Linked DNA regions of Homo sapiens: region 2 is linked to region 1. The links come from fine-mapping of genetic effects on gene expression. A gene starts in region 1. The other region holds a variant in brackets. All regions are shown on one strand. Distances are between the middles of the regions. Region 1 holds the start of PAN3 (poly(A) specific ribonuclease subunit PAN3). Region 2 overlaps PAN3 (poly(A) specific ribonuclease subunit PAN3).

Region 1 (5,223 bases):
ACTACATATTTATTTTTAGTAAAGGAATACTCAACAATGAACCCTGCTTAAAAAGACAACCCTACTATAGGAATAAGTAGTTGTCTCCTAAAAAAGTGTGGAGATATGAAATGTGTGGCAAATAAGTTTATTTTTTATTTATTGACCGAGAGGGTCTCACTGCTGTGCAGGTTGGCATAAAATGGCGCCTTCAAAGCTCACTGCATCCTGGAACTCCTGAGCCCAAATGATCCTCTGCCTCAGCCTCCCCAGTAGCTAGGACTATAGGCAAGTGCCTCTACACCTGGCTAATTTTTAAATTGTTTTGTATAGACAGGGTCTTGCTAGTTTTCCCAAGAGGGTCTTGAACTCCCGGCCTCAAGTGATCCTCTTGCCTTGGCTTCCTTCCAAAGCAGTGAGGTTAGAGGTGTGAGCCACTGTGCCCTGCCATGTTGACTTTTAAAAACCCTGTAATAACTTCCAATTGTCCTCAAGAAAAAGTTCAATTCTTTTTTTTTTTTTTGAGATGGAGCCTTGCTCTGTCGCCCAGGCTAGAGTGCAGTGGTGCGATCTCACTGCAACCTCTGCCTCCCGGGTTCAAGCAATTCTTCTGTCTCAGCCTCCCGAGTAGGTGAGATTACAGGTGCCTGCTACCACACCCAGCTAATTTTTGTATTTTTAGCAGAGACGGGGGTTTCACCATGTTGGCCAGGCTGGTCTTGAACTCCTGACCTCGTGATCTGCTCGCCTCAGCCTCCCAAAGTGCTGGGATTACAGGCGTGAGCCACTGCGCCTGGCCAAAAGTTCAATTCTTTAACATGGCCCTACAAGGACTTTTGTGGACTCTGCTCCATTTTCCACTATCACTGTATTCTAACAATAAAAGCTGTTTGCCTAGAATGCTCTTTGACTATACACTGACTACCACTAGCAGCAATACTACTTTTTTTTCGAGATGGAGTCTCGCTCTGTCGCCCAGGCTGGCGTGCAATGACGAGATCTCGGCTCACTGCAACCTCTGCTTCCCAGGTTCAAGTGATTCTTATGTCTCAGCCTCCCCAGTAGCTGGGATCACAGGCGCTCGCCACCACGCCCAGTAATTTTTTTGTATTTTTGTAGAGACGGTGTTTTACCAGGTTGGCCAGACTGGTCTCGAACTCCTGATCTCAGGTGATCCACCCGCCTTGGCCTCCCAAAGTGCTGGGATTACAGGCGTGAGCCACTGCGCCTGGCCAATACTATTAATAATAGTTACAACCTACCGAATTCTTATTAGGCATGGGACAGTTTATATACATTATTAGTTATACTTTATGAAGTAGGTACTATTCTTAATCCAGGTGTACAGACAAGGCACAGAGAAATGAAGCAATTAACTGAGAGGAACACAGCTATTAAAGTGTAGGCACTTTAATCTGTTTCAATCCAGATCTGTCTGAATTCAATGATGTTCCCAAACTTGGAACATGAAAATATCAACTTTCTCCAAGAAGTCTGACATGTTTAATATCCTCTAATAGCAAATGTGATAAGGTTAGCACTTAAGACACTGGTTTACAACGGACCTGTGTACTTGATGCCTCCCCAACCGGAAGATAAGCCATCTGAACTCACTTAAGGCGGCATGTTCACTTTTGCTTCCCCAGCTCCACAGTTAAGTGTACCACAGTTTCTGGTACACGTAATGCGTGTTAATAAAGATTTGTTGAATAATCAAATAAGCGAAACTGCTTTTAAACAGAAAGCCATAATACAATGTTATTACCTTCGAATTTGGCTAGAGAACATCACCAAGCTTACCAGTTTGTGATCTAGACTCCACTTTTCCCCATTTTTTTCAGTGTGCTACTTTTGCTTATATCCATTCTTCTGTGACTTTGTTTGCCACAATTCCTTAAATACTTCCACCCCTCCTTTTCATAACAGCGATCTGCCGTTTGTGAACCTCTTTTACAGAGAAAAACTAGAATGTTACTTTTCCTTTCATAGCAATTCTTTAAAATTTCTGAAAGCCTTTAAAAGGGTATTAGCGCAAACATCAGAGATCGCTGAGGTTAAAACTATCTTTTAAAAATGAATTTCACCGTCTCAAAAAAAATAAAAATGAATTTCAAATCAAGGCTAGGCTGATTGGAGAAAAGCAACCTAGTATATTTATAAAGGTCTTCCAGTGCTGTCTAAGCAGTGTTGTCCCAGGTGGCATCCTATTTTTCATAATTTACCGAAGGCCCTTGGTAATATAAATACAGAGAATAACAGGTGCTGCACTGAGCAGGGGGTCTGTCTAAATCAACCTTTTTGGCTCCATTTTTTGACAAAGGGCCAAGAGGTTAGCGTAATCGGTCCAGTAGTTCTCATTACCTTCGAGGGGAAGGGGAAAGAGGAGAGGGGCGAAGAAAGGAAACGGGGAGAGGAAGTGTGGCAAATAGAAGATATTCTTCAGGTAGAGCCAGGGCTCGGGCCGCGTCCCCAGGTGGCCCCTCCAAACGACCGTTTACCTTGTCAATTTTCTCTTTTCAATGAAAAAAAAAAAAAAGACATCTGGCTTTTTAAGTAAGAGAATATACAAATAAGGAAGGTATCAGGTCTCGTGAGAATTCGGCGCCAGATCCGCGTCCGGAACCCCACCGAGAGCCGCCGGTCCAACCGCCGATAGCTCGCGGATGCCCCCGGGGGCCCGACGCCGGCCAGGCTTCCCCTAGCGCTCCCGCTACCCATAAGCCCTCGCGTCTCAGCGCGCACGCGCAGCGGCGACGGCCGTCTCAGGAAGAGGAAAATGGAATAAACAACTCGGAGGAACCAGAGCGCGAGAGAGCGAGTGGAGGCAGAATTTAAAAATAAACCGGCCCCTCCGCCTTCCCCACCCGCTTGCCGCTGCCGCTCCCTCTTCCCCTGCCCGCGCCCTCGAAGTCCCCGTCTGGGCCCGCGCGCTCACCCCGTCGTCCCGCGCGGCCCCTTTAAGAAAAGAGAACGAGAGAGTGAGTGAGAGAATCCCAACTCTCCCCCTACCCTCCCTCCTTCTACCCCCTCCTCCCTCCCCTCTCCCCTCCCCCTTCTCCCCGGGCGGCTCCGGCTCCCGCAGCGGGACAGACCCACCCGCCCAGGCTTTTATCCGGCACCGGCAGCGTCTTCCTTTCCTCCCCCGTCTATGGTGGTGGCGGCGGCGGCTCCTCGGGCGGCGGCGGAAGACGAGGCTGCGGCGTTGCCATGAACAGTGGCGGCGGCCTCCCGCCCCCCTCGGCCGCCGCCTCCCCTTCCTCCTCCTCGCTGGCGGCGGCGGTGGCGGTGGTGGCCCCGCCGGGGGTCGGGGGTGTCCCCGGCGGGGCGGCGGTAGGAGTGAAGCTGAAGTACTGCCGCTACTACGCTAAGGATAAGACTTGCTTCTACGGGGAGGAGTGTCAGTTCCTGCATGAGGACCCTGCCGCCGGGGCTGCCCCGGGCCTCGGCCTCCATAGCAACAGCGTCCCCCTGGCTCTGGCTGGTGCACCCGTGGCCGGCTTTCCGCCGGGAGCCGTCGCGGGCGGGGGAGCTGGGCCGCCCCCCGGGCCCAAGAAGCCGGACCTGGGGGACCCGGGGACCGGAGCCGCAGCCGGCGGAGGAGGCAGTAGCGGGGGACTCGATGGACCGCGGCTGGCAAGTGAGTGTTTTTCGGGCGGGGCGGGCCGCGGCGGCGGAGGGCAGGCCTGGGCCGGATGAGGCCCTGCTGCCGACGGGAGCTGAGCACGGCCCGCGGGCTCCCCCCCTCACCTCCCAAGGCGGTCTGAGAGGCCTAGGCCGGGCCTGAGCCCTCCTTCCTTCTTCCTGCTTCCCCTCCCCACTGCCTTCGGCAAGTCGGAGAGCGCGGGGAGGTTGGGTTCCCGGGAACGTGGGTGGGAGGACTGGGGTGATGTGAAGGGGGGGCGGGGAGGAAGGGGGATGGGCTGTGGCGTGCGGAGTGTGAGAAAGGGGGTGTCGTTTCCGGGGGGTGTGGAAAGGGGCTGGGTTTGCAGGCACATGTGTTTTGCGTGTCCTTGTGGAGTGGCGTCTGCAGAGTGTTGAGGTTCCCTAGTGGGGAGGGGTGTGTTTGTGTGTGTGTGTGTGTGTGTGTGTGTGTGTGTGTGTAGGGGGCGGGAGGTGAGGGGCGGGCTTAAGGCTTCGTGGAGTAGGTTGAAAGAACGGAAAAAGTTTGTAGAAGGCTTGCGGGAGAAAGGTTTTGCAGGCAGGAAATGCTTTCTAAGGATTAGGAGGGAGCGGACTGTCGCGTTCAAAGTGTGCTCAGGTTTAATCGAGAGTTTAGAGTAGGGATTTCACAAAGACGCATTTCATCTGAGTTTCCCTGAAAGCTAGAATAAGTTTGCTGGTGTCAGCTGGGATCCTGTCTTCTATAGCTTTGTATCAAGCAAACTCAGCATTGTGTCTTGAATGCATGTCATGTGCAGCCTGCGTTTATGTGCGACTGAGCACTTGGGTGGGGACATCTTAAGGCTGTTTATATTTCTTTTTCATGTGTTGTTGTTGTTGTTGTTGTTGTTGTTTTGGAGAGAGTCTCGCCCTGTCGCTCAGGCTGGAGTGCAGTTGCGCGATCTCAGCTCACTGCAACCTCCGCCTCCCGAGTTCAAGCGATTCTGTTGCCTCTGCCTACGGAGTAGCTGGGACTACAGGCGCGCGCCACCACGGCCAGATAATTTTTTGTAGTTTTAGTTGAGATAGTAGTCTCGTTGTGTTGGCCAGGCTGGTCTCAAACTGCTGGCCTCAAGTGATCTGTCCTCCTCAGCCTCTCAGTGTGTTGTTATCTATTGACCTGAAGCTTGTTAGTTGTTAGTGGAGTTTACAATTGAATGTGAGCGTAATCTGTTAGAGAATGTTGCCTTTACGAATAGAGCCGGTGCCAGATGTCCCTGTTTTGTTTCTTAGTATATTGAGCGTTTCTAAACCAAATAGGAGTCCTACTTTCTTGGGAATTCTGGAGAACTAGATCTTAAAATAATCTGATAGGCAGTTCAATTTGTACATGAGAACATTTTGTCTTTTTCTTAAACACTGTTAATGAACCTGATAGGAAGTTTTAGCATTTAATTGGTCTATGAGGATTATTTAATATCTTCCCCGGGGTTTTGCTTTCTTGCTTTTTCTTTCGAGACGGGATCTTCCTATGTTGCCCAAGCTGGCCTGGAACTCCTGGGCTCAAGCGATCTTCCTGCCTGGGCCTCCCAAAGTGCTGGGATTACAGGAGTGAGGCACCATGCTGGGCCAAGTGTTGTTCTG
Region 2 (5,223 bases), 150 kb after region 1:
GCCTCAGCCTCCCAAAGTGCTGGGATTACAGGCGTGAGCCATTGCACCTGGCCAGTAAAGAGTGTAATTAAAAGAATGTACACACAACTTGCATCTGTGTATATAAATAGACACAAAATAATCATTGTACTAAATATAATGCCTTATTTGCTAAGATTTCAGATATTTTTGTCGGCACTGAATGTTTGGTATTTTAATTTCTTATGTCCTCTGGACAACACTGTTCTTTTCATTCATGGCTTTGCTACAGTCATGTGACAAAAATCTTGGTTTTTCATGTGAGTTACTTTTCCAATTCCTATGGACAGCTCCATAATCTTCTTGAGTACCATTATGAAATGAAATGGACATATTGTGTTTGTTTAAAAGTATAACCAAAAGGTGGGGATGTTAGGATTTATTGTTTAAAGGTAATATTGGTACAGGTTACCAGTTTTTGTAAATTTTGGCTTTTATGTTCAGTTATCTGGAACATTAACATTTTTCTCTTTTTAAAATGTTTTATAGGAGGTTCAAAATGGAAGACTGTTTAGGCTCCTAGCAAAATTGGGAACAATCAATGAGAGGCCGGAGTAAGGATTTACAGTATTTTACAATATATTTTTAATCGAGAGCACTATTTTGCATAATAAGAATAAGTATGCCTGGCTTTATTTGGAAAAAGAGAAAAATTCTCATGTGAAGTGACCTTAAGATTGTGTTAGCTGTTAAGGTGCTATTTTTAACAACAGCCTAGGTGTGGCTGTCCTTACGAATTTTACACACATGTATACACACAGAAAATATGGTGTGTTAGAAATCTCTTGTGGTTTGCACATGAGGGCACATTTTATGACTAATACTACCTCTACCCTATCTTCTTTTTGAGGAAGAAGTTTCATGTAAGTTTACCCTGGTCAGTTTAGAGACTTGAGAAATCTCTAATTTTTGCATGCCTCTTACCTTCTATTAAAGCACACTTTTTTTTTTTTTTTTTTTTCTTGAGACGGAGTCTCCCTCTGTCGCCAGGCTGGAGTGCAGTGGCACAATCTCGGCTGACTGCAACCTCTGCCTCCCAGGTTCAAGCGATTCTCCTGCTTCAGCCTCCCAAGTAGCTGGGACTACAGGTGTGCACCACCATACCCAGCTAATTTTTGTATTTTTAGTGGAGATAGGGTTTCACCATGTTGGCCAGGGTGGTCTGGTCTTGAACTCCTGACTTCAGGTGATCCACCTGCCTTGGCCTCCCAAAGTGCTGGGATTACAGGCATGAGCCACCACGCCTGGCCTAAAGTATACTTTTTATAGCCATCATATAAGTGACATTGGAAAGGCATTACCTTTTACACTATTTGTCACTTAGTTCCACCTCATTTGTAAGTTAATGTTAACCATATATACATAAGCAGAGTCGATGTTTGTACTACATAACTGTCAAAGACAGGTAGAACAGAATTTGCAATTACTATGACTATATACGTAAGTTACATTTCAGGAATGTTTGATTTGTTAATAGAGATAGGTGAGAGATAAATACTATTACTTGAGGGGTTGTTTTTTTTTTTTACCATGGAATTCAAGTCCACTTGCTTTTCTTCAAAGTCGAAAGACTCATTTAGTGTCTTCCCTAATAATTTTTCTAAGTGAAGAGAACATAACAATATATGTTAAACCATTTTTAATAAACTTTTAGCTGTTTCTTCTAGCATTTATCTCTTTACTTTAAAATGTCTGCTTATAGTTCTATTCTTGATTCCCCCAATATATAATTCAGCTAATGACTCATCCTCTTCCCTACACACGTGCACGCACGTGCACACACACATGCACACATGAGTTGAATCTGTATTTAGTGTTACAAAACACCTCTCCCATGCGGTCAAAAATAGGTAACCTATCAGTTCCTTTTTTTCCCTCCCACCTAGAGAATTGGCTCTGGATCCTCTGCACTTCCTGTTCCTATCTGGGCTGGTTATGCTTTAAGCCTGCACGTGCTTACACTTTAGAACTGGAACTTCCCTTCAGTATTATCTGGGAATTCTCATTATCTCTCTGTGTTGGATACCCTGTTTTCTTGCTTTATTCCTTGGTTTGTTTATTTATTTATTTATTTATTTATTTTGACTTAATGGAGCATGTCCTTGTAGCTTCCTGAAAAAGGTGAGTTTTTTTAGTCTTGCAAGTTTGAAAATGGCATTATTCTACTTTCACACATTATTGATACTGTGAATGCATACTAAATTCTAGATTGTCCTCAGAAAATTTTTCCTTTTTTTTTTTGAGAGGGAATCTCGCTCT[A/G]TCCCCCAGGCTGGAGTGCAATGGCGCATTCTTGGCTCTCTGCAACCCTCGCCTCCCAGGATCAAGCGATTCTCCTGCCTCAGCTTCCAGTGTAGCTGGGATTACAGGCGCATGCCACCATGCCCAGCTAATTTTTGTATTTTTGGTAGAGACAGGGTTTCACCATGTTGTCCAAGCTGGTCTCGAACTCCTGACCTCAGGTGATCCACCTGCCTCAGCCTTCCAAAGTGCTAGGATTACAGGCATGAGTCACTGTGCCCAGCCAGGAAATTATTCTTATTAATTAAATTTTTTAAATAGGTTGTCTATGAATAAAGTAAAAAGTAGGAAAAGTTTGCAGTGAAAACTGTAAAAGTCTCTCTTTCATACCTGACATCCCCAATATCTATTCCCAGTTTCCCCCATCAGTCTATATTTTTAGTTTCTTCTGTATTATTCCAGAGTTACAAATACAACTATATATTCTTATCCCCTCCCCCTTTAAATATATAAAAATTGTAAACCATACACAGTATATTTTATCATAACAGCGTGTTTTAGAAATCTTTCTATTTAGATATGTTTAGTATATGCCAAGCACTATTCAAAATAGTTTACAAATATGACCTGACTTATTCCTCATAACAACCCTATGATGGAGTTACCATTGTTATTCCTATTTAACAGAGTAATTGCAGCATAGAGAGGTTAAATAACTTGAACAAAGGTTGCGTAATTAATAAGTATATGATCCAGGACTCCAGTCTAGACAGTATGGTTCCAGAGTGTGTGCTCCTAACCACTATGCTATGTGTCTCCTCATACTTTAATGGCCTGGTAGTAGTTTATCCTATGGATGTGTTATAGTTTATTCCCCAGTTCCCTATAGGTGGGCATTTGGGCTGTTTTCAGTCCTTTGCTAGGGTGGGCGGTACTGTAGGGACTAACTTGTGCATACTTAATCTTATATATATGTAAATATAGGCCAATTGTGATTGCTAGGTCAGTAGGTGTGCCACTATAATTTCATAGCTATTGGAGAATAGTTTACCCATGTGTGTAATTCGTGAGACTGCCTCACCAAAATACTTTTTTCAAACTCTTAGATTTTTGTCAACCTTGTAGGTGAAAAATTGAATTTAAATGCAGTTTTATGTTCTATGTACTCTTAACAAGCATGTTTGAGGGTCTGTTTTATGCTATTGATCCATTCTTATGTCCTGTTCAATTCATATCCTTTGCCCATTTTTATTTTCAATTGGATTGCTTGTCTTTCTTATTGATATATAAGAGCTAAAGAGATTCACTCTTTTTGTGATTTTTTTTTTTTTTTTGACTGCTCATTCCCCACCCTTGGAGACATTTGTATATGTCTGTAACTGACCAAATTTCTTCTTTGCTTCTGGATTTTGAATCATAGTTAGAAAGCCTCTTTCTACTCCAAGATTATGAAGGAACTATTTCATGGTTTTTTCCAGAACATTTGTGGTTTCATTTCTTCATATTAAAAATGTTTTATGTGGTTAGAAATTGTATAGGGTGTAAGGTGTAAGTCCATCTCCCCTTGTCCCCAAGACTACCTAGTAGTCCAAAAGCTGTTTATTGAATAGTCGAACAATCTAGCTTTTCCCCACTGGTTTTTGAAGCCACACCTCTTCCATACTATTTTAATTCAATCATGAAATTGAATTTTGAAATCTAGCAGTATTCTTTCCCATCTCCATTTCATTGGGCACCACTTTGTTGTTTTCCTAATACTATTAAATTTTCTGTACAAATTCTAGAATCAGCTTCTTTAGTTAAAAAAAAATCAATAAACCTGATGGTTTCTTCATAGGGAAGATAGCATATTTATCGTGTTTAAACTCTGGGAACATTTGTGATTTTAGATGTTGAGTCATCGTAACCAAGATCATGGTATGTCATTCTATTTGTTGATGTCTACTTTTGTATTCTTCAGTAGTATTTAAGTTGTTCTTTATATAGTTATAGCAATACTGAGTGTATTCTTAGGTATTTCATCTTGTTGCTATTATAAGTGGGAAAATTTCCCCCATTCTGTCTTCTTGTTACTGGTATATATGAGAATTCTTGATTTCTTTAAATTTTATGCTCTGGTACCTTATTGTTTGGGTCGTTTTCAGTAAATTCTCTTTGAGTTTCCCAGGTGTTATCTGCAAATAATGATAGTTTCCTTCCCAGTTTCTATACTTTTAATTTCTCTTGAGTGGTTGTGTTAGCGGGTACTTTCAGTACATAGGTAAGTACTAGTGATGATAGTTCAGAATTTGAAGCATTGTTCCTTTTAACTTCCAGGCAGATTCAAAGGCATTTTCTTTATAAATCCTTTCCTTCCTCCAAGCTTTTGGGTTTTGTTTGTTTGTTTGTTTGTTTGTTTAGTCACTGATGTTCAGAAATTCACAGTGATGTTCCTTGGTGTAGGTTTTGAGTCATAATGATGGATTAACAGGTGAACCCCTTTAATCTTGGAAACTTAACGTCCTTCAGTTCTGGGACATGGTCTTCATTGTTTCTTTAATAACTTCTTGTCCTGGAATTCTCATCGCTCAGATGTTAGACCTTTGCAATTGATTTTCAAATATTCTCTTCTATTTTCTATCTCTAATTTTTTTTGTTCTACTTTCTGGGCAGTTATCTCAACTGCATTTTTCTAAAATTAAAGTTTTTTTTCTAATTCTTTGAATTTTTAAATTTCTGCTATCATATTTTTATTTTCCAAGAACAATTCTGTTTTCTGAATGTTTGTCTTGTACCATCTAATTCTTGTTTCTCTGAGGCCGTCAGTTAATAGATTTTTGCTGGTGGTTGGTTTTTGTTTGTCTTAGTTTTAAGTTTTGTTCCATTCCCTGCAGTATCTCATAGGAAACAAGAGTTTGCTTTATTTTGTTTTGTTTTGTAACAAAAGATTTCTGATACTTAGCTGTCCATTTGTATTAAAAATAAGGT

The links. PIP is the estimated chance that this variant, and not a neighbour inherited with it, causes the effect.
Region 2: its variant is the best candidate, but not a certain one, in a credible set for the expression of PAN3 in whole blood (TOPMed, PIP 0.88).

What each region holds. Positions count from the first base shown.
Region 1 is chr13:28,135,472-28,140,694 of GRCh38, forward strand. It overlaps PAN3 (poly(A) specific ribonuclease subunit PAN3), which reads left to right and starts at 3,074. Exons shown (of 19, transcript NM_175854.8): 1 at 3,074-3,616. The coding sequence starts at 3,187. PAN3-AS1 (PAN3 antisense RNA 1) reads right to left here and starts at 3,703. Exons shown (of 2, transcript NR_029383.1): 1 at 3,076-3,703; 2 at 1,372-2,934. RefSeq lists silencers at 2,919-3,028, 3,219-3,298, 3,339-3,738 and an enhancer at 3,821-4,115.
Region 2 is chr13:28,280,808-28,286,030 of GRCh38, forward strand. PAN3 (poly(A) specific ribonuclease subunit PAN3) reads left to right here. Exons shown (of 19, transcript NM_175854.8): 17 at 508-572. It overlaps LOC124903140 (a long non-coding RNA gene), which reads right to left. Exons shown (of 2, transcript XR_007063735.1): 1 at 1,548-5,223. Among named protein-coding and RNA genes, the nearest start is that of PAN3-AS1, 140 kb to the left of the region's middle. The variant A/G (reference allele first, on the strand shown) is at 2,278.